Homo sapiens: one gene and its partners. The protein of the gene in region 5 purifies or fractionates together with the protein of the main gene of each other region. This does not show direct contact. Each region holds a gene or a part of one and is shown on either strand. Other genes may lie near its edges.

What was found.
Region 1: the proteins of BOLA3 (region 5) and PAK5 purify together in Homo sapiens (co-immunoprecipitation; one large-scale study listed by IntAct). This does not show direct contact.
Region 2: the proteins of BOLA3 (region 5) and HEBP1 fractionate together in Homo sapiens (co-fractionation; one large-scale study listed by BioGRID). This does not show direct contact.
Region 3: the proteins of BOLA3 (region 5) and ISCA1 purify together in Homo sapiens (affinity purification with mass spectrometry; one large-scale study listed by BioGRID and IntAct). This does not show direct contact.
Region 4: the proteins of BOLA3 (region 5) and DDAH1 purify together in Homo sapiens (affinity purification with mass spectrometry; one large-scale study listed by BioGRID and IntAct). This does not show direct contact.
Region 6: the proteins of BOLA3 (region 5) and GATD3 purify together in Homo sapiens (co-immunoprecipitation; one large-scale study listed by IntAct). This does not show direct contact.
Region 7: the proteins of BOLA3 (region 5) and ACP6 purify together in Homo sapiens (affinity purification with mass spectrometry; one large-scale study listed by BioGRID and IntAct). This does not show direct contact.

What each region holds. Positions count from the first base shown.
Region 1 is NC_000020.11:9,539,474-9,542,076, forward strand, and holds part of PAK5 (serine/threonine-protein kinase PAK 5), read right to left. Parts: intron 145-2,603; coding exon 1-144.
Region 2 is NC_000012.12:12,997,466-13,001,492, forward strand, and holds the start of HEBP1 (heme-binding protein 1), read right to left. Parts: upstream 2,801-4,027; 5' UTR 2,650-2,800; coding exon 2,572-2,649; intron 1-2,571.
Region 3 is NC_000009.12:86,269,039-86,272,538, forward strand, and holds part of ISCA1 (iron-sulfur cluster assembly 1 homolog, mitochondrial precursor), read right to left. Parts: intron 3,075-3,500; coding exon 2,969-3,074; intron 1-2,968. UniProt on the Homo sapiens protein: Involved in the maturation of mitochondrial 4Fe-4S proteins functioning late in the iron-sulfur cluster assembly pathway. Probably involved in the binding of an intermediate of Fe/S cluster assembly.
Region 4 is NC_000001.11:85,458,660-85,462,159, forward strand, and holds part of DDAH1 (N(G),N(G)-dimethylarginine dimethylaminohydrolase 1), read right to left. Parts: intron 1-3,500. UniProt on the Homo sapiens protein: Hydrolyzes N(G),N(G)-dimethyl-L-arginine (ADMA) and N(G)-monomethyl-L-arginine (MMA) which act as inhibitors of NOS. Has therefore a role in the regulation of nitric oxide generation.
Region 5 is NC_000002.12:74,134,900-74,137,912, forward strand, and holds the end of BOLA3 (bolA-like protein 3), read right to left. Parts: intron 760-3,013; coding exon 694-759; coding exon of another isoform or gene 623-693; 3' UTR 501-622; downstream 1-500. UniProt on the Homo sapiens protein: Acts as a mitochondrial iron-sulfur (Fe-S) cluster assembly factor that facilitates (Fe-S) cluster insertion into a subset of mitochondrial proteins. Probably acts together with NFU1.
Region 6 is NC_000021.9:44,140,183-44,143,682, reverse strand, and holds part of GATD3 (glutamine amidotransferase-like class 1 domain-containing protein 3, mitochondrial isoform 1 precursor), read right to left. Parts: intron 3,434-3,500; coding exon 3,341-3,433; intron 2,742-3,340; coding exon of another isoform or gene 2,609-2,741; exon of another isoform or gene 2,520-2,608; coding exon of another isoform or gene 2,285-2,519; exon of another isoform or gene 2,268-2,284; intron 479-2,267; coding exon 322-478; intron 1-321.
Region 7 is NC_000001.11:147,653,525-147,657,024, forward strand, and holds part of ACP6 (lysophosphatidic acid phosphatase type 6), read right to left. Parts: intron 3,149-3,500; exon of another isoform or gene 3,094-3,148; intron 1,725-3,093; coding exon 1,637-1,724; intron 803-1,636; coding exon 670-802; intron 1-669. UniProt on the Homo sapiens protein: Hydrolyzes lysophosphatidic acid (LPA) containing a medium length fatty acid chain to the corresponding monoacylglycerol.

The DNA of each region.
Region 1 (2,603 bases), on a different chromosome or scaffold from region 5:
GTATTGTCTCATGAGGGGGACGATGCAAGACGGTGGACCTGCTAGTTTTAAGAATGGATGTCCGAGGAGTTCCTGGGCTGTTGCTCTCTGAGAGGGCTCCCTCACCAACATCAAGTCTAGGAATCCCCGGAGCACTGAAGAAACCTGTGAAAACACACAGATACCAATCTGAGGACTAACACAGACACCTAACCCAGTCCCCAAAATGTTTTCCCCATTCATCCTATCAACAACTTCAAATTCCAGAAAGTTACCTTAAGGAGAAAGATGTTGTGAAAGCAAAAGCATGTCTTGTCTTTGTTAACATTTCGTGTTTTCCTTACCTTTTTCAAGTGTGAAATAATAGGTGTAAATGACAGCTCAACTAAGAATGAAAACTTATTTACTACATAAAATAACAGTGGCAATCACAGTGATAAGAGCAGCTATTACAAAATATTTAGTATGTGCAGGTGCTGGTCACACGTGCTTGATGAAGCATAGTATAAACAGGGAGCCGTTTTATTTTTCTAACAACTGCAACCACACAGGCTCTGTGGAACCCCTTTCTTTAAGAGAAACAAGCTTCTGTAAGGATATCGAACACATCTCATTTTTTTCTTTGAAGGTCTTGTAATTTTCCTTTTAAAGGTATATCTTACTTTATGTATATATTTAGAGATGAGGTCTCACTATGTTGCCCAGGCTCAAACTCCTGTGCTCAAATGATCCTCCCACCTCAGCCTCCTGAGTAGCTGGGAGTACAAGCATGTGCCAGCATGCCCAGGTTCCGCTGCACAAATACTAAGAGTGTGGCTCAATGGATTTTTACATACATTTACCCCTATTTACTTTCCACTCCTATCAAGATATAGAACTTTTCTACCACTCTAGGAAGCTACTTTTAGGTTTCCTTCCTGCCAACCCCTATCTCCCTGCAAAAGGTCACCACTATTTTAATTTATAGCATAACTTAGTTTTGCTTACTTTTGTACTTTACCAAAATGGAGTCATATATTTGATTTCTTCTCTATCTGGCTTCTTTCACTCAGTGTTGTATCTGTGAGATTCATCTCCGACGTGTGGCAAAAGTTATATCTTTTAAATTACTGTGTAGTATTCACTGTCCAATTATACCACACATTATCCATTTGGGAAACAACCTCGGACTGGTTTCCAGTTTTTTTGAAACCATTAGGATTAAAGTTGTTCTTGTACATGGTTTTGAAGAACATTGGCACTCACTGGGTGTGAGACTACTTTCATATGATACATTTTTAGTCACTTTTTTTTTTTTTTTTGGAGACGTAGTCTCGCTGTGTCACCTAGGCTGGAGTGCAGTGGTGCGATCTGGGCTCACTGCAAGCTCTGCCTCCCAGGTTCACGCCATTCTCCTGCCTCAGCCTCCTGAGTAGCTGGGACTACAGGCACCCGCCACCATGCTTGGCTAATTTTTTGTATTTTTAGTGGAGATGGGGTTTCACCGTGTTAGCCAGGATGGTCTCCATCTCCTGACCTCGTGATCCGCCCACCTCGGCCTTCCAGAGTGCTGGGATTACAGGCGTGAGCCACCACACCCAGCCACTTTTCATTATTTAGACTTAGTCCAATCCAGTAAAAATTTCAATCTCTCTTTTTTTGTTTATGTTTTTGTAGGTCCACACAACCTATATGAGTGATGCTACTGGGGCTGTTCCCTAAGATTTAGGGGTGAGGAAGGAGGAGATATTACCATTACAAATAATTCTCCTCCAAAAGGCAGCCACACACTCTCTTTTATTGTCATAAGATAGGAAGAGAGGTGTGTATGGGGCCAGTGTTTATAGTAGTAGTCCTGCAGAAATGATCCTCTGAGCAAGTCCTTTGGAAATCTGGCAGCTCCTACAGTGGTGATTCTTGGATGAAGCATCATTATTTTCTGAGCTCGTCCTAATTGGCAATCCTTGGAAAACAGAAAAGACCCCACTCGGTCTCTTACATGCATTATATTAACCATGACCTTCATTGCCCTGTACAATCTAGCTCCTGCCCATCTCTCTGACAAGACCTACCTTTTTCCCCTTTCTGACTTTACTCCAGCAATGTAAGCCTTCTTTCTTGGCTTAAGGCCTTTCCACTTGATGCTCCCCGTGCCTGGGACCTTTTTCTCCAAGATCTTTGCATGGCTGGTACCTTCTTCCTATTCAGGTCCCAGCTCGTTTGATCCCTCCCTAGAAAGGGCTTCCTTCACTCTTCAGCTTAAATCAGTGATAGGGTTTGGCTCTCTGTGCCCACTCAAATCTCACCTCATATTGTAATCCTCACATGTCAAGGGAGGGACTTGGTGGAAGGTAATTGGGTCATGGGGGCAGTTTACCCCATGTTATTCTCAAGATAGTGAGGGAATTATCATGAGAGCTGATAGTTTTATAAGTGTCTGGCATTTCCCCTGTGCGCTCTCTCTCTCCTGCCACCATGTAAGACATGCCTTGCTTCCCCTTCGCCTTCTGCCATGATTGTAAGTATCCTGAGGCCTCTCCAGGCATGTGGAACTGTGAGTTAATTAAACCTTCTTTATTTGTAAATTACTCAGTCTTGGGTATTTCTTTATAGTAGTGTAAAAACAGACTCATACAACCAGCTTT
Region 2 (4,027 bases), on a different chromosome or scaffold from region 5:
AGAAGCTAGAATCATGGTGGCCTGTGTAGCGGAAGCCAAAGCCACAGAGAAGCTCCTAGTAGTATGGATCTGATGGGGTGGAGAAGGAGGAGAAATACTCTGGTTTCTCCCTTTTTATCTCCCAGTAGAGACTCCCACTGAGCAAACGTAGCTGGGCGCCGGCTGACATCTGGCCTGGGAAACAGGCCGAATGGGTCAGCTTCCACTCCACAGGAAGACAGCAGAGCAGGGAATGGGTGAGGAAGGAATCTGAGGGCACAGGCCACGAACCAGCCCAGACCCCTCTCCGCCTGTGTGGGCCATCATCATTAATCCAAAAAGACAAAGTGAGCCCCATTCCATGACAAAAGCAAGAACACATGGATTCTTAAAGTGTTAGAATCACAGGAACCTTCATCAGGGCTGTTAGGAGAAAGGCTGTGGTTCTGAGTAGGGCAACTACTTGATGGGGAGGCCAGTGATGCTGCAGACCTTATCAGGTGCCTTTTTCATTGCCCAGGGAGGCGGATAGACAGCTCTCTGTGTTGGCTTGGGTGGGTCCTTTGGATGCTCACAGCAGGACTGATATTAATAACTGGCATCCTTATTGCATTTGTGTCCAGCCTATGCACAACTATGTCAGTTTCCCTACTCAAAATCACAGCCTCACTCCTAATACTCCCTATTCCTCACTCCCCTGCTTGCTTTTCTTCACAGCACTGATCACTATCTGATCCATGATACATTTTATTTGTTCATTAGCCAATAAAACATAAGTTCCATGAGGGCAGAGAATTTTGCTGGTTTTAATCTTTTATCCCATTGCCTAGAAGAGTGCCTGGCACATAGCACTCAAAAAACAGTTTTTGTCGAATTATTTTTAAATTGGGTGATTTCGCTAAGAATCTGGATGTATGGTTTTCCTTAAGAATTTGGCAACACTGTTTCATATATCACTGCATAGCAACAAGTGGCTGGAACTGCCGTTTAGAGATGGGGACCTGAGTTCACTCTCTGATTTGCCTCAGTCCCCACTATGCCTTATAGCCTAAAACAGCCAGCTTCATCCATTTCCATTACCTGCCTGGTTGCTGCAGGTATTCAAATGTGGGACCTCTGATCAGGGCTAAACTGTTCATTCTACATAGAGCTGGGGAAACGGAGATAAGAACAGGTGAAAGGTCTTTGGTTGTCAAAGAGTTCAGATTAGAGTCTAATTGAGGGCTTTCGTGATATGAAGATCATTGTACTAGGTATCAGAACTTGGCCCCCAGGCAATACAGTCCTTTCACAAATGAGGCATCGTATTGGGAGCTCTGTATACAGCTGCACTGTTTAAACTACCTGTCCACCAGGAGATTATAATCTAGCAGCACTCTCCTTGTTTTCAGGGGTGCAGTCCAGTTAGCCCATGTTAGCACTGATATAAATTTGGGGGAAGACAGCAATTATGCTCTTCTCACTCATTCTGTATTCTAGGTACCCAACTCCAGAGGATCTAACTGGCCAAAAGCAATGGTACAGCTCTGGGCCTTTGTGCATGCTCTTCTCTGTTGTGTGCACTCCTACACATCCCTGAGGCCCCAGCTCAGGACACTCCACTGAGGTCCCCATCATAGCCCCCTGGCAGAATTGACTGCCTCTGTGCTCCCTGCGTAGCGCATTTATATCTATTCTGCACAGATCTTGTTCTTTTACACAGTAGTCCCCCTTATCTATAGTAGATACCTTCCAAGCCCCCCAGTGGATACCTGAAACGGTGGACAAAACTGAACCCTGTATCTACTACGTTTTTTCCTATACATACATACCTATGATATAGTTTAACTTTATCAATTAGGCACAGTAAGAGATGAACAACAATAATAAAATAACAGCAATTATAACAATATGCCAGCATTGCTAAGCTTGCACTTTGGGGCCATTACTAAGTAAAATAAGGGTTACTTCAATACCGCCACGGTCGATCCGATCACCAAGCTAGCTACTAAGTGACTAAGGGCGGCTACTAGAGATAGGAGGCTGACCTTGGACAAAGGGGCATTCCGGTCCCAGGAATCAAGATTTCATCCTGCTACGCAGAATGGCCGGAAACTTAAAACTTAGGACTTCTGTATTTCTGGAATTTTCCATTTAATAGTTATGGACAAGAGCTGACCACAGGTAACTGAAATCGCGGATAAAGGGGGCTACTATCCGCAGTTCTCTAGTACTTGGGAGTTTCTTGCGACACTCATTTCTGCAACCGAGTGTCTCTCAACAAATCAAACTGTTCGGAATGTTTGGAATATTTTAAACGAAAGAATGCATTCAACAGGCAGTGCCCAACTCCCCAAGTTGGGATTCTCTCCTTGGATCAGTCTCTCCTGTTTACCCCCCTCCTCTCACCACCGGCTGCAGGGGGACCTCTCACTCCTTTCCTTCCCAGTCCAAATGCTGGGCGGTGGAGAGCCGCACTCGCGACAGACACCAGAACGCACCTTCGATAGCACATTCCTGCCCCACCTGCCCCTCAGCACCCGCTGCAGCCCCGACGAGGGTGGGGGTGGGAGGCAGCAATCCTTCAGGTCCTCGGCAGCCCTGCGGGCCTACCTTGTCCCCTTTGCTTAGGACCTGCCAAGGCCACGTCTCTACGCTTCCGAACAGCGAGTTCTTGATCATGCCCAACATGTTGTAGCCGAGACGCTCCCGACGCACGGGAGGACGTGAGGTGGCGGGGGCGACGGAGCACCACGGGCAGCGACCACCGGCGGCAGGGCGGCAGGGCGGCAGGGCGGCAGGGCGGCAGGGTGGCAGGGCGGCAAGGCGGCGGGACGGCGAGGCGGCGAGGCGAGAGGCGGGGCTAGAGGCAGGGGCCAGAGGGCGTGGCTAGAGGGCGGGGCGGCAATTCAGCCCGGCGGTGAGGCAAGGGGGCGGGACGGCGAGGTGAAGGGGCGGAGAGAGAGGGCGGGGCGGCGAGGCGAGGGGGCGGAGAGAGGGCGGGTCAGTGATGCGAAGGGCGGGCAGCAGGGCAGCAGTGCAGCAGTGCAGCAGTGCGGTGAGGCGAGGGTGCGAGGCGGCTAAGCAAGGGATGGGCCCGCCGTGGCGAGCCGCTGGGCCGTGTTCCGCCTCCTTTCGGGCTTTCCGCGGGTGTCTGGGGAGGGAACCCGGCCGCGGGCCTCAGGCCGTCCCCCTCCGCAGACCCCTTCTCTTATTCTGAGTCTAACCTATCCGCTGGGGCCCTGGAAAGCGATTCTCGCCTGGAGTGGCTTTAGGCAGCGGTGGTGGGGAACGTCCTCTCTCAGGTGCCTGGGCTCCAACCTCCGAGCCCCGGGTTGCTCACGCTTCTCCGGTCCTCTACCCGAAGGCTCGATCCCGCTGGTACAGCGGCGGCCAGGCTCCCTGTCTTGGTAGCTGTCCCTCTACCCCCGCCCCATGACCTCTTCTAGACCATTGAAAGAGCATCCAAACCACTTTCCTGCTGCCACTCTTTCCTACCATCCCTCTAAATCACAGTTTCCAGGTGACTTTTCTAAGCATGGCTTTTCTCGTTCACTCCTGTTCAAAAATCTTCTCACCAATTTTGTCACCATTTACTCAGCTGAGTGCCTGCTTTCTGTCAAGTATTTTACCAATAAATCTCTACTCCACACCACCGACAAGAAATATTTTGGAGCCATTTAAAAAGGAGGAAACGGAAGCTTCTGCCGCTGCCTGATCCTCCATTGCTCCGAGCCGCGCGGGTGCAGCGGGCTGTGGAGCCGCGGGCCGAGCCCCGCCGGAGCGCCCGAGAGCCCGCGCGTCCCGGGCGTCCGTCGGGGTCCGAGGTCCCTCCCTCAGGGAGTCCCCGCTCGGCAGCGCTCTCGCGTTTCACGCAGCGGCCGGGGATCTGGGACAGGCGGGGCCCCGAGGCCGAGCCTGGCGCTGCCCAGCGGCCGGTGCAGGCCTCAAGCTGGGCCGGGCGGAGGGGAACCGGCGAGTTGAAGCCCCGGGGCCGAAAGCCGGAGCCTGTGGCGGCCGCGGGGGTGGGGAGGGGGGTGGGGCGGCTTCTTGGGCAGCGCCACACGGC
Region 3 (3,500 bases), on a different chromosome or scaffold from region 5:
CCACCTCGGCCTCCCAAAGTGCTGGGATTACACAGGTGAGCCACCACGCCTGGCCAGTGCACTACATTCTTGAACTCCTACACTCAAGGAATCCTCCTGCCTCAGTCTCCTGAGTAGCTGGGACAACAGGCTTGTGTTAACACACCCGACCACATTTGATCTTTTACAAAATTTTCTTAAGCTGATAAGCAACTTCAGCAAAGTCTCAGGATACAAAATCAATGCACAAAAATCACAAGCATTCTTATACACCAATAACAGACAAACAGAGAGTCAAATCATGAGTGAACTCCCATTCACAATTGCTTCAAAGAGAATAAAATACTTAGGAATCCAACTTAAAAAGGACGTGAAGGACCTCTTCAAGGAGAACTACAAACCACTGCTCAATGAAATAAAAAAGGATACAAACAAATGGAAGAACATTCCATGCTCATGGGTAGGAAGAATCAATATCGTGAAAATGGCCATACTGCCCAAGGTAATTTATAGATTCAATGCCATCCCCATCAAGCTACCAATGACTTTCTTCACAGAATTGGAAAAAACTACTTTAAAGTTCATATGGAACCAAAAAAAAAACCCGCATCGCCAAGTCAATCCTAAGCCAAAAGAACAAAGCTGGAGGCATCACGCTACTTGACTTCAAACTATACTACAAGGCTACAGTAACCAAAACAGCATGGTACTGGTACCAAAACAGAGATATAGATCAATGGAACAGAACAGAGCCCTCAGAAATAACGCCGCATATCTACAACTATCTGATCTTTGACAAACCTGACAAAAACAAGCAATGGGGAAAGGATTCTCTATTTAATAAATGGTGCTGGGAAAACTGGCTAGCCATATGCAGAAAGCTGAAAGTGGATCCCTTCCTTACACCTTATACCAAAATTAATTCAAGATGGATTAAAGACTTAAACGTTAGACCTAAAACCATAAAAACCCTAGAAGAAAACCTAGGCATTACCATTCAGGACATAGGCATGGGAAAGGACTTCATGTCTAAAACACCAAAAGCAATGGCAACAGAAGCCAAAATTGACAAATGGGATCTAATTAAACTAAAGAGCTTCTGCACAGCAAAAGAAACTACCATCAGAGTGAACAGGCAACCTACAAAATGGGAGAAAATTTTCACAACCTACTCATCTGACAAAGGGCTAATATCCAGAATCTACAATGAACTCAAACAAATTTACAAGAAAAAAACAAACAACCCCATCAAAAAGTGGGCAAAGGACATGAACAGACACTTCTCAAAAGAAGACATTTATGCAGCCAAAAGACACATGAAAAAATGCTCGTCATCACTGGCCATCAGAGAAATGCAAATCAAAACCACAATGAGATACCATCTCACACCAGTTAGAATGGCAATCATTAAAAAGTCAGGAAACAACAGGTGCTGGAGAGGATGTGGAGAAATAGGAACACTTTTACACTGGTGGTGGGACTGTAAACTAGTTCAACCATTGTGGAAGTCAGTGTGGCGATTCCTCAGGGATCTAGAACTAGAAATACCATTTGACCCAGCCATCCCATTACTGGGTATATACCCAAAGGACTACAAATCATGCTGCTATAAAGACACATGCACACGTATGTTTACTGTGGCACTATTCACAATAGCAAAGACTTGGAACCAACCCAAATGTCCAACAGTGATAGACTGGATTAAGAAAATGTGGCACATATACACCATGGAATACTATGCAGCCATAAAAAATGATGAGTTCATGTCCTTTGTAGGGACATGGATGAAATTGGAAATCATCATTCTCAGTAAACTATCGCAAGGACAAAAAACCAAACACCACATGTTCTCACTCATAGATGGGAATTGAACAATGAGAACACATGGACACAGGAAGGGAACATCACACTCTGGGGACTGTTGTGGGGCGGGGGGAGGGGGGAGGGATAGCATTAGGAGATATACCTAATGCTAAATGATGAGTTAATGGGTGCAGCACACCAGCATGGCACATGTATACATATGTAACTAAGCTGCACATTGTGCACATGTACCCTAAAACTTAAAGTATAATAATAATAATAATAATAAAAGAAATTTCACTATACTTTTTCTTTGTTTAGGTACGTTTACACAAATACTTACCATTGTGTCAGAACTGTGCACAGTATTCAGCACAGTCACGTGCAGTACAGGTTTGTAGCCTAGGAGCAACAGGTTATATTATCTAGCTGAGGCATATGGTAGGCTCTACCATCTAGGTTTGTGTAAGTACACCCCAGGATATTTGTCCAATGTCACATTTCTCAGACCGTCTAGGTTTGTCTAAGTACACCCCAGGATATTTGTCTAACGTCACATTTCTCAGAATGTATCTCCAATGTTAAGTGATGTATGACTGTATCTGCATTATACTTACTGCTTGAGCATCCCAAATCCAAAAAGCTCCAATGAGCATTTCCTCTGAGTGTCATGTCAGCACCCACTTTTAAAGTTTTGAATTTGGGAGCATTTCAGATTTCAGATTTTTGGATTGGAATGCTCAACTCGTACTTATTTGACACAGATATAAAACTACTGCTTACACAAAAACTGTTGGTTCACTGTGAGGTTTAAGGCTGGTTCACTTTTTGGACACAACGATGATCTTTCATAGTTAAAACAAGCTTATATAATAATTTATCAATTAGTTACTAAGAGCAGTCTCTGGAAAGAATTTTACTAGGCCACTTATTATGACCTTAAACTATTTAACCCCTCTGTGCCTCAGTTTCTTCATCAGAAAAACAGGGATAATATGGTACCACCCACATTCAGCATTGTGTATAAATCAGTTAATACATGAAATTCCATCAAACAACACCTACACACACAGTGAGCATTATTTACATAATTCCTGCTACTATCCTTATTTTTTACTTTGTGCTGTGCAAGGCTAATAATTTTAGGCAAAACAATGTGCCCAAAAAATGTTTGTTAAAAACTCACCATCTTGAATAACTTCTTCATCAGAATCTCCTTTTGTCTTTGTATATTCTAGAGTATAAGAAAGGCCATTACAGCCCCTGGTTCGGACACCAACTTTTACACCTACCTGAAAAAGAAGTGAAAATATAAACTTGGTTTTAAAGTAGTACAGATTAAACAATTATACTAATAAAGTGACAGTAGCCTCCTCGTACCAAAATGGACTTTCTCTTATTTTTTGTAGGACAGGGTCTCACTATGTAGCCCAGACTGGTCTCAAACTCGTGGACTCAAATAACGCTTCCACCTCGGCCTCTCAAAGCATTGGGATTACAAGGCAGGAGCCACCCCGTCCAGCCTGGGACTTTATTTAAAATGTCTTTGCTCTACCTTGTTCTGTGAGATATCCTCTGAATGTTTCCTTATGGTTAGGATTCACCAGGGTTCATAGTCCACCATCTGGCAATCCTACCTCTACATGGGATCTGAATTATAGTGCAGACTTGTGTACAGTCTCAAATACCAGAAAGCAAAAGACTGCAGTCAATACAGA
Region 4 (3,500 bases), on a different chromosome or scaffold from region 5:
AGCCTGAGATGTCTGACAGATTTAATATCTAATATCAGTTTAGGGGAAGTGATGGAAGCTAACTTCAAAGGTCAGGGGAATATTTTGATGGAAGTTCAGAGGATTCAGTTATGTAAGTAAATATTTATGGACAACCTGAAATAAATACTGCACTATGTTCTGTATAAGATATAAATGAAACTTTTTTCTCTCTTATTAAGGTTTTAGTCATTTTCTCTTTAATTATGGTACTCCCTTGATAAGCAGGAAGGAACACTACACATATCCAGATCTCCAGTCAAAAAATGAGGCTTTCTGAAATGGTTACAGATTTTAGTAGCAAAAGCCCATAAAATTAATAACTAGCACTCATTTTTAAAACATGCACCTCCAAATTTATATTGAGAATCATAAGATGCCACAAACAATTTACTTATGACACAAAGGCAGTGGAAGGTAAATCTGTTTGTTGAAAAGTTGTAAGTAGATTTTTCTGTTTTTGTGGTTTATATTAATGGATGGATACCTACCATTATTATAATAAAAACTAATTTTGAAGAAATCTGAGCTTAATAAGAATTCAAATACATGCAAAGGCAATTTTCCAGCATATCTGAATTACAAGGGATCTAGCCCTGCCTTCTTAGTCTTATAATGGTTCTCTAATGAGTCTAAGAATCTCTGCAGAAAGCTCATTTTCAGCTAATAGTATCTAATAGAAGTCACTCCCTAGTCATTTTGTTCCTTATTTTCAAGGCTTTCAAGATCAGCTGCACAGGAAGAGACTACATTATTGGATGCATCCCAGTCTCTGGGACACATCAATTTCCAAACGTTACTGCCAAGGCCATGTAGAAGAGTCAAAACAATAAAAAAAAAATCCTGAAAAGGAGCAGTTGTTCTAACTAGTTGGCGGTGATGATTTATCAAGAACTGTTAATCTGCTGCCATGTGAAGAGCCTCCAGCACATTCACTTTCCATCTTGGTGTCAGAATAATTTCTAATTATGGTTTGGGGCAGCTTTCTCACTTGAAACTAAACAGAAGTTTGAGGAAATTTATGCATTTAAAAATGCAATCATCCACTATGCTGGTAAATAAGATACAATTACGCACAAACTGTGCCTAGGCCATTTAGGGGGTTATATAAATGACTGAATTGTTATTTTTAAACTAAAGTGAAAACAACATATTCTCATTTACGAGAGAAGGGAAGTAAAATAATTCACTTAGTGTTCGAGTTAGATTGCATATCACTAATGTGTAAAATGGGATTTAAGTAGTTATTCTACATAGATTTAATGTTATGTTAGGATTAACCGCAACTGGCAACAAGCACTTCATGCAAAAAATGACCTTCAGATTTTCATAAAAACCTCATTTCTGCAACTTATTACTGTGTATGACTTTGGACAAGTCACTTAACCTCAGTTACCTGAGCCTCAGTTTCCTTATCTTTTGAATAGGGTTAATAATACCACCTTTTAGGATTCACACACATTCAAAAACTTGGCATTTGTTAGCTATAGCTATTAGACATTATCTTGATGTTCACTTGCCTCCAGGATGAACATATTTAGGCTTTTTCCTAACCAGAGAATAAACCCAGAACCAAAATATATAGGTCCTACTAAGTACCCTAATAAAAGGGGAACATCTATCCAAATTATATTCCCCATCCCTTCCATTTATGTCCCCATTCCCCCATTTGATGCCTAATTCCACTTTTGGGATTTATTACCTGGTGCTAAGCATTGACTTCTTCCTGAAGAGGCCCCTACAAATGCAAAAGCTCAAGGAAACAATAATTAAAGCTATTATCACTTTGTAAGAATGCATTTGTGTGGTTTTCTCCAAGACAAAATTACCCCACATACTAACACTTGGTACCTGGGAAAGGATAAAATAGCTGTTAAAAAGGAGCAATCCTAGTCAACAGGGTACATGACAAATAAATTTAAAAAAAAAGTAAAGGGGCAAAAGGGCCTTTTGCAAAACAGGATATATTTTGCAATTTTGCTTAAGTTAAGTTTTGTCAGTTAATCATTCATTAGGTACTAAGAACCTTTGGACAGAAACTCAAGAAATTGGCATTAGTAGTTGCCTCTAAGGAGGAGAACTGGTTAGGCAGGTGCAAGAGTGGGCGTAGAAGGGCAACACCCACTTTCACTGCATATCCTTTTGTACCTTTTGATTTTGGCACTGTAGGCATTAATTATCTACACAAAAGTTTTAATTTAAAAAATTCAATCCTCACACCCTGTTATTTCTCCTACATCATCTTTTAGATTATTTGTTTACATTATTTGACATTTAAACATTGACTTTTGGCCAGGCACAGTGGCTCGTGCCTGTAATCCCAGCCCTTTGGGAGGCTGAAGCAGGAGGATTGTTGAGCCCAGAAGTTCAAGGCTGCAGTGAGCTATGATCATGCCACTGCACTTCAGCCTAGGTGACAGAGTGAGACCCTGTCTCTAAAAACAAACAAACAGAGAAGTTGCATTTTTTCCCTAAAAAGTAAGTTGGAGTCATGTAAAATTTGATAGGCCTCTAACGGCTTATTTTTCTTTAAAGTATTAAACATAAAAAATACTCAAAATCTAAAGATACAACATTATTAGACAATTAACATTATTTACTGACTTTCTGTAAATACAGTTTCCTTCACTAAAACTTAGGCTTCCTGCACACAGGGCCTGTGTTTTATTAATCTTTGAGGCCCCATTCAGGCAAACACTGGGCTTTCACAGGAATACTTTCTTGAATTCCAAGGAAGAAAAGTCATTAAATGAAACACGATGTTTTGATTAAGAAGGAATTTCTCAAGATTTTTATAAAAACAAACAAAACAACAATAACAATAGAAAGAGGCAGGGACAGGGAAAGGGAGAAGAAGAAACAGCTATAAACCACCTACGTTCATAATAGAACTTTTGGGACCTTACTGATTGGGAATGCTTGTGAAACACCAAATATGTCATAAGGAGGGAGAATTAAGGTTAATCTAAAATAATGAGAACACTTGTTCAACAAAATATTTGCTACATGCCTATTGTATACAAGGCCTTGGTGACAAAATGTTGACCAATACAGACATGATCCTAGCCCTGACAGGTTACATAATAGTGGGAGATACAGAACGGTAAACAGGCAATTATCACGTGGTATGATATATATAAAAGGAAGTTTATAGCGTTTTAGGAGCTCATAAAAGGAGAACCAATTCCATGCTTGGAAAAGTGATGTCTAAGTGGGACTAGAGCTTTGGAGTTCTCTAAACCCGAGTTCAAATCCTGGTTTTACAGGTTACACTCTATAACCCTGGCCAATTTATTTAATCTCTCCAGGCCTCAGTTTCACCAACTTTAAAATAGGAATTATGATAGTATTGAGTTCAAAGAGTTGATGTGAGTATTAATGAAATGCACATCATAAATCTGGTATGGTGTATGGCAAGTGGCAAGTACCCAATAAATATTAGCTAATAATAGTGATAACAGTAAGCTGAGAACTTAAGACAG
Region 5 (3,013 bases):
GCTCCTCGGTGTGACTTGCTCCCAAGTTCAGGGCAGGTCCATCTGATTGGCTGAGTCTGGAATATCTGCCTGTGCCTCAGCTGTGAGGGAGGCAGGGAAAGTAAGCCTTTTCAGCTTCTGTCGTGGGAGGTGGGCTCTGCCTCCTACCAAGAATCAAAGGGTGGAGGATCTTCAAACACAGGAAAAGAACCCGGATCCTGGCACCCCCAAATTTTCAGAGTCCATTTCAGAGCATAAGAAATTGAGGGTCCAAGATCATTCATGTAAGAAGTTTAGAGGGGGAAGAAAAGAATGATAAACGAAAAGAACAGCAATAGTAAAGGATCTTTTCTTTGTTTCAGTAAGATGAAGAGGCCTGAGCAGTTTCGTGGAGGGGAAGAAACAGGAAAACCTCTTCAAAAGACAAAAAGCTGGCACTGCATTCTCTCTCTGTAGCAGGACAGAACTGTCTAAAGACAAGACCCCTTTGGCCAAAATAAAGGAACCTGAAACATTACTAATGACCCTTCAAAAGCTTCAGTTGTTTGTTTCCTTTAATTAACATCTAAATAGATTATACATCTTCTATAATTATAATATGGAAATGTATATGAGCAAAATATATAAATTTTTTGGTGACTGCTTAGGGAAGAATGATGTCAGTGAAGTTCATCCAAGGTCTTAAGCAGCAGCATCTATGCAGCCAGGGCGTGGTCAGCGTTTGGGGACAGAGGTAAATATCCGCAATCCATGCATCTCTTTGATTTCTTCTTTTAGTGCCTAAGTAAGAAAACAGCATCATCAGTTTTTGTGTATTTGACGTTGATTACAGTAATTCTCTGAGAGTATTTTTATACAGCTCTGCATCTGAAGGAGACTTTGTATGTGCTTTGTTTAAGCAATTTTTCCTTTTTTTGAAAAACAATTTTTTTTAAATCAATAATATCTAACATGATTTAAAGATTCAAAGGTACAAAAAGGCATTCAGGGAAGTCTCCCTCCTATACCTGTCCATCTCCCCAGTTTCCACCCTTGTTCCCAAAAGAACTGTTGTTAGTTTCTTGTGTATCTTTTTTTTTTTTTTTTTTTAAGTCATGGTCTCGCTCTAGCGCCGAAGTTGGAGTGCAGTGGCGCGATATCGGCTTACTGCAAACTCCACCTCCTGGGCTCAAACAATCTTCCTGCTTCAGCCTCCCTAGTAGCTGGGACTACAGGCACATGCCACCATGCCTGGCTAATTTTTTTATTTTTTGTAGAGGCAGGGTCTCACTATATTGCCTAGGCTGGTCTTGAACTCCTGGACTGGAGCAATCTGCCTGTCTTGGCTTCCCAAAGTGCCGGAATTACAAGCGTGAGCCACTGCACCTGGCCAGTTTCTTGTGTATCTTTACAGGGACTTAAAAATGCATATTCACCAGGCATATTCAAGCTAATATATTTCACCCCATGACCTTTTAAAACGCAAATGGTTAAAATTTCAAACACATTACACCAAGCTTGTCCAACCCACGGCCCATGACAGCTTTGAATGTGGCCTAATATAAATTCGTAAACTTTCATAAAACATTTTGAGATTTTTTTTGAAATTTTTTTTAAAGCTCATCAGCTATCATTAGTGTTAGTATATTTTATGTGTGGCCCAAGAGAATTCTTCTTCCATTGTGGCCCAAGGAAGCCAAAGGACTGGACACCCCTGCTCTACACTTTGCTCTTCCCCCAAACATCTATCTTGGAGATCTTTCTATGTTAGGCATATATGGGTGTCCTGATTCTTTTTTGCATCAGCATAGTATTCCATTATATGAATGCATTATAACTTTTCAACCTGTCCCCTAGCGAACTTTTAGGCTGTTTCCTGTGTTTTGTTATTTCGAGCATCAAGCATTCTTTAAAATGAGCAGTTCTTTAAAATCATACCAATTAGCACAAATTCCCCAATGGTCAGAGCAGGAAATAAAGTTTCAAAGGAATTATGGGACTTGTTTTAAGGCTACAAATGGTGTCAGAGCCCAAATCTGAAGGAACTACCAGAGTCAAATAGATATTTGGCCCCTGTAGTGCTGGGAGAAAGTGAGGTTACAGAATCAGAGTGGGGCTTGGACCGCTCAAGTTTATAATCAGTACAGAGGAAGAAATAAGGTCCTTTTATACTAGGCCAAAATCTGATAATCATACTAGAGTGGACATTTTTCTTTTCTAGTCTCTTTAGTGATCTCCTTCTCTTGGGGAATAATTCCTTTTCCACTCTATTGTATAATTCTGGTGGAACCACCAATTGGTCTGATATTGAGGTCATTATGTGCCACTGGCCCAGCCTATGATTGGACCGAGGTGGCACATGACCCAAATTGGGCCACTTAGAATCTCCCTTGGGATTTCTGAGAGTGGAGCCTTGTTTCTTGGGCCAACATGCTATGAAATTAATTGGAGGTGGCCATGGACTGTGTTTCCCACCAAGGAGAGAAAGCCCATCTTTAGCAGGAGAAAAGGAGACCAACACAGGGAAAGAAGCTGAAAGCTCAGAGAGAGAGAGGAATCTAGATATGCCAGAAACCAGATAATTTTGTTACATGGGCCAATTAATTCCCTTTGTTTGCTTATGCTAATTTTAATTTGGTCTCTGTCTCTTACAATATAAAGAATCCTAATATATGTGGTCAGGTTTATAGATCCTTAGACACAATCTAGTCCCATCCCCTTATTTAATTAAAAAAAAAAAATAGAGTCTACTCCTTGTCCAAAGTCAGCAAACAAGCGAGTAATGGAATCAGGATATGAACCCAGGTATCCTGAGGTCCTGGCCATACCTGGTTTCCATCATGTTCCTGACTTGCCCTGATCCGGGAGCTCCTGTTGTGTTGGGGGACAATGAGCTGCCCCACTTGGCCTACACTGCACACCCTCCAGCTCCACAATCAAGTGCAGGGCCCTCAACTCTGCGGACAGGCAGAAATGTCCCTGGAAAAAGCCTCATATAATCACTGGGCGAAGGTCCCTGGGCCACTTGCTCTCTGCAGGCGTGGAATGCTCCCTA
Region 6 (3,500 bases), on a different chromosome or scaffold from region 5:
TGGCTGCCTGGGTGTTGCTGAGCAGACTAAACAGTCAGGCAAGGGACCTGGATCTGCCAGATCTGCCAACCACGCACCAGAGCTGCGCTTCTGACGTGTCTGTGACCCACCTCACACCAGCTGGGCTGTCACAGCCATCTGCTCTCTGCCCTTAGACACATGGCTGCGGTGCCCACTGGGGGAGGCCCCACAGGGAGAGCAGCAGGTGCAGCTCCCGGTGAAGAGGCCACCCACCAAGACAGCCCGGAGGGAGGGGCGTCCCTATGCACGTCTCAGGGACAAGCACGACAGCGGGCCGGGCCTGGCTACCAGGAAGGATATGACCACTTCCTTCACGCAGTGCTTGGCACCCAGGGCCTTGATGGCCTCTGCGGTCCCGGCATAAGGCCACTTGCCACCTTCCTCCTGCTCGTGGCCCACAGTCACCTCGACGCCTCTGAGCACCTTGGCCGCGAGGACAGGTGCAATGCAGCACAAGCTGAAAGGCGAAAAGAACACGGGTCAGGCAGGCTGCATGGCCTGCAGAACAGAAATTACCCTCGCCATGACCCCAGGCTGCCCTGCCACGGGAGCCCTGCCGACCCTGCCCCCTGTGAGCCTGCGCTGCCAGAAGGCTGTGGCCCATGGGATGTGATGGAGGTGGCACCAGGTGACTCAAGGCTGAGAGTGAGGTGTCCTCAGCCCCACTCCCCGCCAAGCACGCCCTGCAGGCACTCAAGCACCAGGCCAAGGACCCCTGAGGGGAACCCCCAACAGCCATGGGCTAAGCCCCAAGCCCCAGGACACCCCAGACTGGCGAGAGTCCCGGGCTGCCAAAGTCCACTCACAGAGAGGGTAATGATGTGCGGCTGCCCCAGCCCTGAGTTGTGGGGTGGTCTGTGACCCAGCAATAGATAACACAGCTGCACTTCTCATTCACACCAGCCCCCCTTCTACAGGAGGCACAACGGGCCAGGAGCAGCCTCGCCAGCCTCCGACCTGCAGCACAACTCTCAACAAGTGCAGGCTGGTGGACGCACGCCCCTGACCCTGACGCACAGGCCGCAGCAGCCCTGAAACTGAGGGTCCTGCCACACCCACCCCTGGGACCTGCTTCTGCTTCATCAGGAACCCCTCCCTGCCAAGTCAACAGAGGCCCCTGTGTGCCAGGCACTGTGCCCACAGCAGGGCCTTCAGTGACCTGTGTCGTCCAGCGCCTCATGGCCACCCAGGGGCAACAGTGGAAGGAGTACGGCCTCATTAACAGCAGCCCCATCCCCTGGCAACCTGTGGTGTAGCCCACAGCTGTCAGGCCCCACCCTGCCCTCAACACCCCGCACCCTTCATCCCTCCTCCCGCTGTCTACAGTCCTACCCACTCCCGACAGGCCCAGGTGGAAACTGCTACCGTGAGCTGTAACGAAACACTGTTAAAAACACATTTCACAGCCAGGTGCAGTGGCTCATGCCTGTAATCCCAGCACTTTGGGCAGCTGAGGCAGGCAGAACACCTGAGGTCGGGAGTTCGAGACCAGCCTGACTAACATGGCGAAAACTTGTCTCTATTAAAATTACAAAAGTTCGGCCTGGTGGCAGACACCTGTAATCCCAGCTACTTGGGAGGCTGAGGCAGGAGAATTGCTTGACCCCGGGAGGCGGAGGTTGCAGTGAGCCAAGATCACTCCAGCCTGGGCAACAGAGCGATACTCTCAAAACAAACCCGCCCCCAAAACTGCATGTCCTGAAGCAACTTCTGGCTGCCTATGAGATGAAACCCCCCTGCCGCCCTCTGCGCAGGCAGAAAGTCCAGGAAGCAGGTTCTCAGCAGCTCCCGACGCTGCGTGCAGCCGCCCAGCCATCAACTGCCAGCTACAGATGCCACAGTGGCTCCTGGCACAGCCCAGCGCCCACCTCGACTACTGCATTCAAGGAAGGGGTCCCAGCAGTGAGCGGCTGGGCCGCCTAACAGCCCCTGGCTGGCCACGCAGGCCTCTGACACCAGGCTGAGGGGTGGGTGGGGCCAGTGGGAAAGGATTTAGGTTTCCTCAGGAAAAAAGCCTGTGGGTCACCGTGCACGGAAGCCCCATGGCTGGACCGGGGAGCAGACGGGCTTGTGCCCTGCAGTTTTCAGGGGAGCCTCATGGCTGGACCGGGGAGGAGACAGGCTTGCGCCCTGTGCTGTTTCCAGGGGAGCCTCATGGCTGGATTGGGGAGGAGATGGGCTTGCGCCCCACACTGTTTTCAGGGGAGGCATGCTCAGAGGCAGTGGTTCACCTGCCAGGGGCTGTCTTGTTTCATCGAGATTTTTAATCAGTCACAGAAGAAAGGGCCATGGGCTCCTCCCTCTGGGCGCTCATCCAAGGAACACTTCTCTGACAAGGACGGGATCCCGAGGTGGAGACCATGGGCGAAACCTTCACCCCGGCTGTGACACGGCTGCAGCAGGGACCTCCTTCAGGAGCTCTGAGCCTGCACCTCTTCCTGAGGCTCCACTTTAGGGGCCTCCCTGGACAGTGACCAGGCAGGTCCTTAAGTGAGTGACTGTGGATGGGGAGACAGAGGATTCCGATAGATCCTCATCCTTGTTCGGCTGACAGAACTCGGTAGTGAGCGGCCATCGCGAGTGCGCCTCACTGATGTTCACCCACGCAAGTGCGGCTCTCGCCCTGCCAGCACCAGACGCAGCTGAGACCTGGACAGCACAGCGCCGCGTTCCAGGACCACCAAGGAGCAGGTGCCGGGAGGCTCGTGGAAGCATCACACCTGCCGAGGCGGAACCCGGCCTTGCTGGGTCACCCTCACACATCTGAGAGTGACTTCCCGGCAGCAGACGCTGAAGAGCACACACTCCCTGCGGGGCTGCGACCCGCCACGTAAGCCAAGGCGCTTACGTGGATGAAGGAGTGGGCGCCCTACTCGTGCCGCCAACCTCAGGACCCAGGCTTTGTCTGAGCAGGGACAAAGGGGCGTGGTTGGCTGTGGCTCCCCAGGAGGGAGGCCGCTGGGAGTGGATGGCGTCAGGGATGGAGCACGTGCTGCAGTGACTGGCCAGAAGTCAGCGGGGTTGGGGGTACTGTGGCTAAGGGGCTTGGGAGAAGGGGTCTGGTAAAGGATAGGGGTCCTGAGGGACTGCCTAGGGACACCTCTGGGAGCCAAGAGAATTCCAGGCCTCCTCTAGGGAAGTGCACTGTGCCTCTCCTTCCTGTTAAGTCACCAGTGACATCGTGTGAAATCCCCTCAGTTAAAACAAGAAAAGCAGCTGTGAGTTTTCAGGATCAGCGGCAGCTCCTGGCTGAGAACAGAGGCCGCGGGCCCACGCACCCTCCTCCCTCCCTCCCCGAGGCCTGCACGGCTGTACACACCCGATGGGCTTCCCGGCCTGGTGGAACTCCTTCAGGACACGCTCCACTTCTTTATTCACCTTGCAATCTTTCCCGTCCACGGCAAACGTGCTCCTACCGGGAGACAAAAGGCCTCCTCAGACAGCCTCACAACCAGGGTCTATTCCTGGGGGGCTTCCTA
Region 7 (3,500 bases), on a different chromosome or scaffold from region 5:
AAAATACGCCATACAAATACATGATATGAACTCTTGCCTTCTAACCTTAAACCTATTTTACACATAAAAGCAAGGTGCATTTCTGCCTTTAGGGTACACAGTCATTTTATTTTCACAAGAGTGGGGAGGATCCTATATAACTTTGGATGTCCAACTTTTAAATCTAGAGAAACCTTTCCCATTGTTAGTCTTCTTTATGTATTTATTACAGAAAAAAAGATCCTATGGCTAAATAAGCTTAAGGAAAACAGATTTAAAGATTAACCAGCTTTCTTTATGAAGGGCATCTCAGATTTTTTTAATATGCTGATGTACATATAGTACTCTCAAGAAGTGATGCAATAAATAAGGATTCCAAAATTTTTAGACCCTACTCATCCCTCCCTACCCATTGCCCCTGCCTGCCCAAACACAAACTGCATATTGGGTGTTCTGGGGAACATGCCTCAAGAAGCTCTGGTCTAGAGTTCAGTGTCTGTGTTCCTACCTGGGTAAGGAGTCTTCCTCGATTGCTCCCTATCCCTCAGTCCCCACACCCATTCTATCTGTAGGTCTTATCACAGTTGCCTTCAAACCAGGAGGCCTCCACCCACTTCTCTCCACCCGGTTCTAACTCCGGAGCCAGCCCACCAAGGCTATTATCCCAGGCTCCCCAACCCCAGGACTCACCTGCTCGGCAGCCACGTTGTCCAGGAGGATGAAGAAGTCCACTTTATCACTACTGTCAATGCCCATCCTGTCCTTCACCTTTTTCAAATCCTCTGAGATTCCTGGCTGTAAAGAGGCAGTCTGCCTCCGGCCTCTGACAAAAAATAAAAAGTAAAGCCTTATATTCTATAGTGATTAACAGTTTACAAAGTGTGCTTCACACTTGGGTTATCATTTGGGATATCATTTAATCCCCACAACCCAATGGGGTTAGCTGGTATTATCCCAATTTTATAGATGAATAAACTAAGGCTCTATAAGGTCAAATGACTTATAACGTTAAGTTAGCAAGTACCAGGGTTAGGATAACAGGATGAAATTTTCCAAATCTCACTCTAGCATTTGCATTGCATCAAAAATGATGCAAGCATGGCCCAGGTCTGTCTGAAAACAGCATTTTCTTTTCTTTACGGAATAAATACCATATAGTCTTAGTGCAGCCTAGAGATACCTGAAAAGTGTCATCAGCCCAAACCGATCTATCTTACATAGAAACATATTGGTAAGAGAAGAAAAATCTGTGTCTTGTTGGGCTTGTACAACTGGATTTGCCGGTTAAAGACAGTCTCAATCATCTTTTATTTAACCTGTTGGTTTTCTCATTTGCCCCACCTGAGAGACCGGGGTTGTCAGAAGGATCATACTTTGTAAATGGCAAAGGCCCACTCGTGGCTGTATGTATCATCTCGCTAGCCCAGTGTGCGGCTCTTCCCAGAATTCCTGGCCTTCACCATGGGTCTGTCATTGTGAACAAGACTTCTTCGCTTCCTAGACAGCTGATGTCACACTTAAGTGTAATTTAAACCTTCCCATCCATTATTCGCCAGTAGGGTAAGCCTGGACAGGCCCTCAGTATAGACAGAGTTCTGCCAGCAAAGGTTGTAAAAGGTTGTCCCCAACTGGTGAGCAAGAACCCAGGGGCAGTTACCTGGTTCTCTGCCTCAGGCTCCAGCAGCTTTGGTAGTTGGGATACAAGACTTCTGAATCTGCTTCATCAGTGTGGATGATGATGGGTCCTGGAAGAAAGGGAGGAAGCACAGGCAGGCAGAGGCTTCAGCTTGTTCTTCCCAGCATCTCCACCCCCTTCTCTTTGTCTACAGAGATGGAGCAGAGATCTGCTCTGAGAGGCAGATCATCAAGGTTACTCCTTAAGGACAGAAAATGCCTTCAACATGCCCTGGCCCTGCCAAAGGAGGCTCTCCTATAATCTGAGCAATGAAAAAAGTTAGTGGCAGCAGCCTTGTTCTGTCTAGCGCAAGCCCTCCTATCGGGCCACAAATAGACTAGAGCAGGTAATAGACCTGAAACAGACTGGCAACTCCCTGACACCTTCCAAAAAATCCCTGCTGTAAAGCACTACCAGCATTTGGGCATTCTAATAAATAATAGTGTTATCAGAACTAAGTTGCTTCCTGAAGCCTGATCCTATAGGCCACTATGGTGACTTATCACATAACAAACTGAGAAAAGTGGACACAAGGCCACAGATCCTCTCAGAGACCCCATAGCCTTGCCCAAAATAAAAAGCCAGGCTTTTAGATGAATTGCTGGTCTAACCAAAGATCTAACCAAAGAAACTACAATGTTTCTCATATATCTCATGGCAGCTCATTGCTATTCAGACCCCCTCAGTACCATTGTCCCCTCCCGTCAATGCCCAAAGAAAGTGTCCTAACGCCTTCCCATGCTTTGCTCTGTGTCAGAGATGGCAAGTGCCATCTCTGTGTGGTAGGTTCTTTTTCCACACTGCTCAAGCCTGATGGCAAAAGAAGGAGCTCCCCAGCAGCAATTTGGGATTCACTGAGGTCCATCTACAGAGTGATCAGCTGAATCAAAGTCCCAAAGGGGTATTTATTCCCAAATTATTGATAGTCAGAACCAAGGGCTTTAAAAATAGCCTATAACTTTACTAGAATATCAGAATTCACACACACATCGTTGGTCTGGACAGAAGAAGAAACCACACTGAAAGTCATGAGTTTAGTCTTCAGTCCAGAACTAACCAGCAGTCGCCCTGGGAAGTCACTACCATTCTCTGGGGTTCATCTGTAAATCAAAGGGGTAGGACTATATCAGCCACAGAACCTCCTCCAACCTACGGCTATTATGTAAAGTATAATAATAAAAGAAGAGGTGCTGATGGCTGCAAGGTGGAGATCGAAAGCATAGTCCACTTGCATGTCCCATCCCCTCCTTTTCTGTGCTTCCTCAGACCCCTCTGAAGAATCCTGGGGTTCTGCAAGATTTGTTGTGAAAAGGAAAAACCAAATGATCCGATGCCGCCTCCAGATATACATGTCCTCAAATAAACAGTTGAGCATAAAAGGAAAAAGTAGGATTCTGAACCAAGACTGCCAGAGTTTGAATCCTAATTCCACCATTTACCAGTTTTGTGTCCCTGGGCAAGTCACTGAGCCTCTCTGTGTCTTGGTTCTCTTATCTGTAAAAGGGGATAATGACACCTATCTTATAGGGTTACTACAAGAATTAAACAAGTTAATATATGCGAAGTTCTTAGAACAAAGTTTGCTGCATACAATTGGTCCTCCATGTCCTTGGATTCTACATCTATGGATTCAATCAACCATGGATTAACAATATTTGAGTAAAAAAGAACAATACAAAATAACACAATAAAAATAACATAAATTAGAAAATAGTACAGGGTAATACACAGCATTTACATTGTATTGGGTATTATGTCATCTACAGATGATTTGAAGTACATGGGAGGATGGGCATAGGTTATATGCAAAGCTATGCCATTTTATAAAAGGGACTTGAGCATCTGT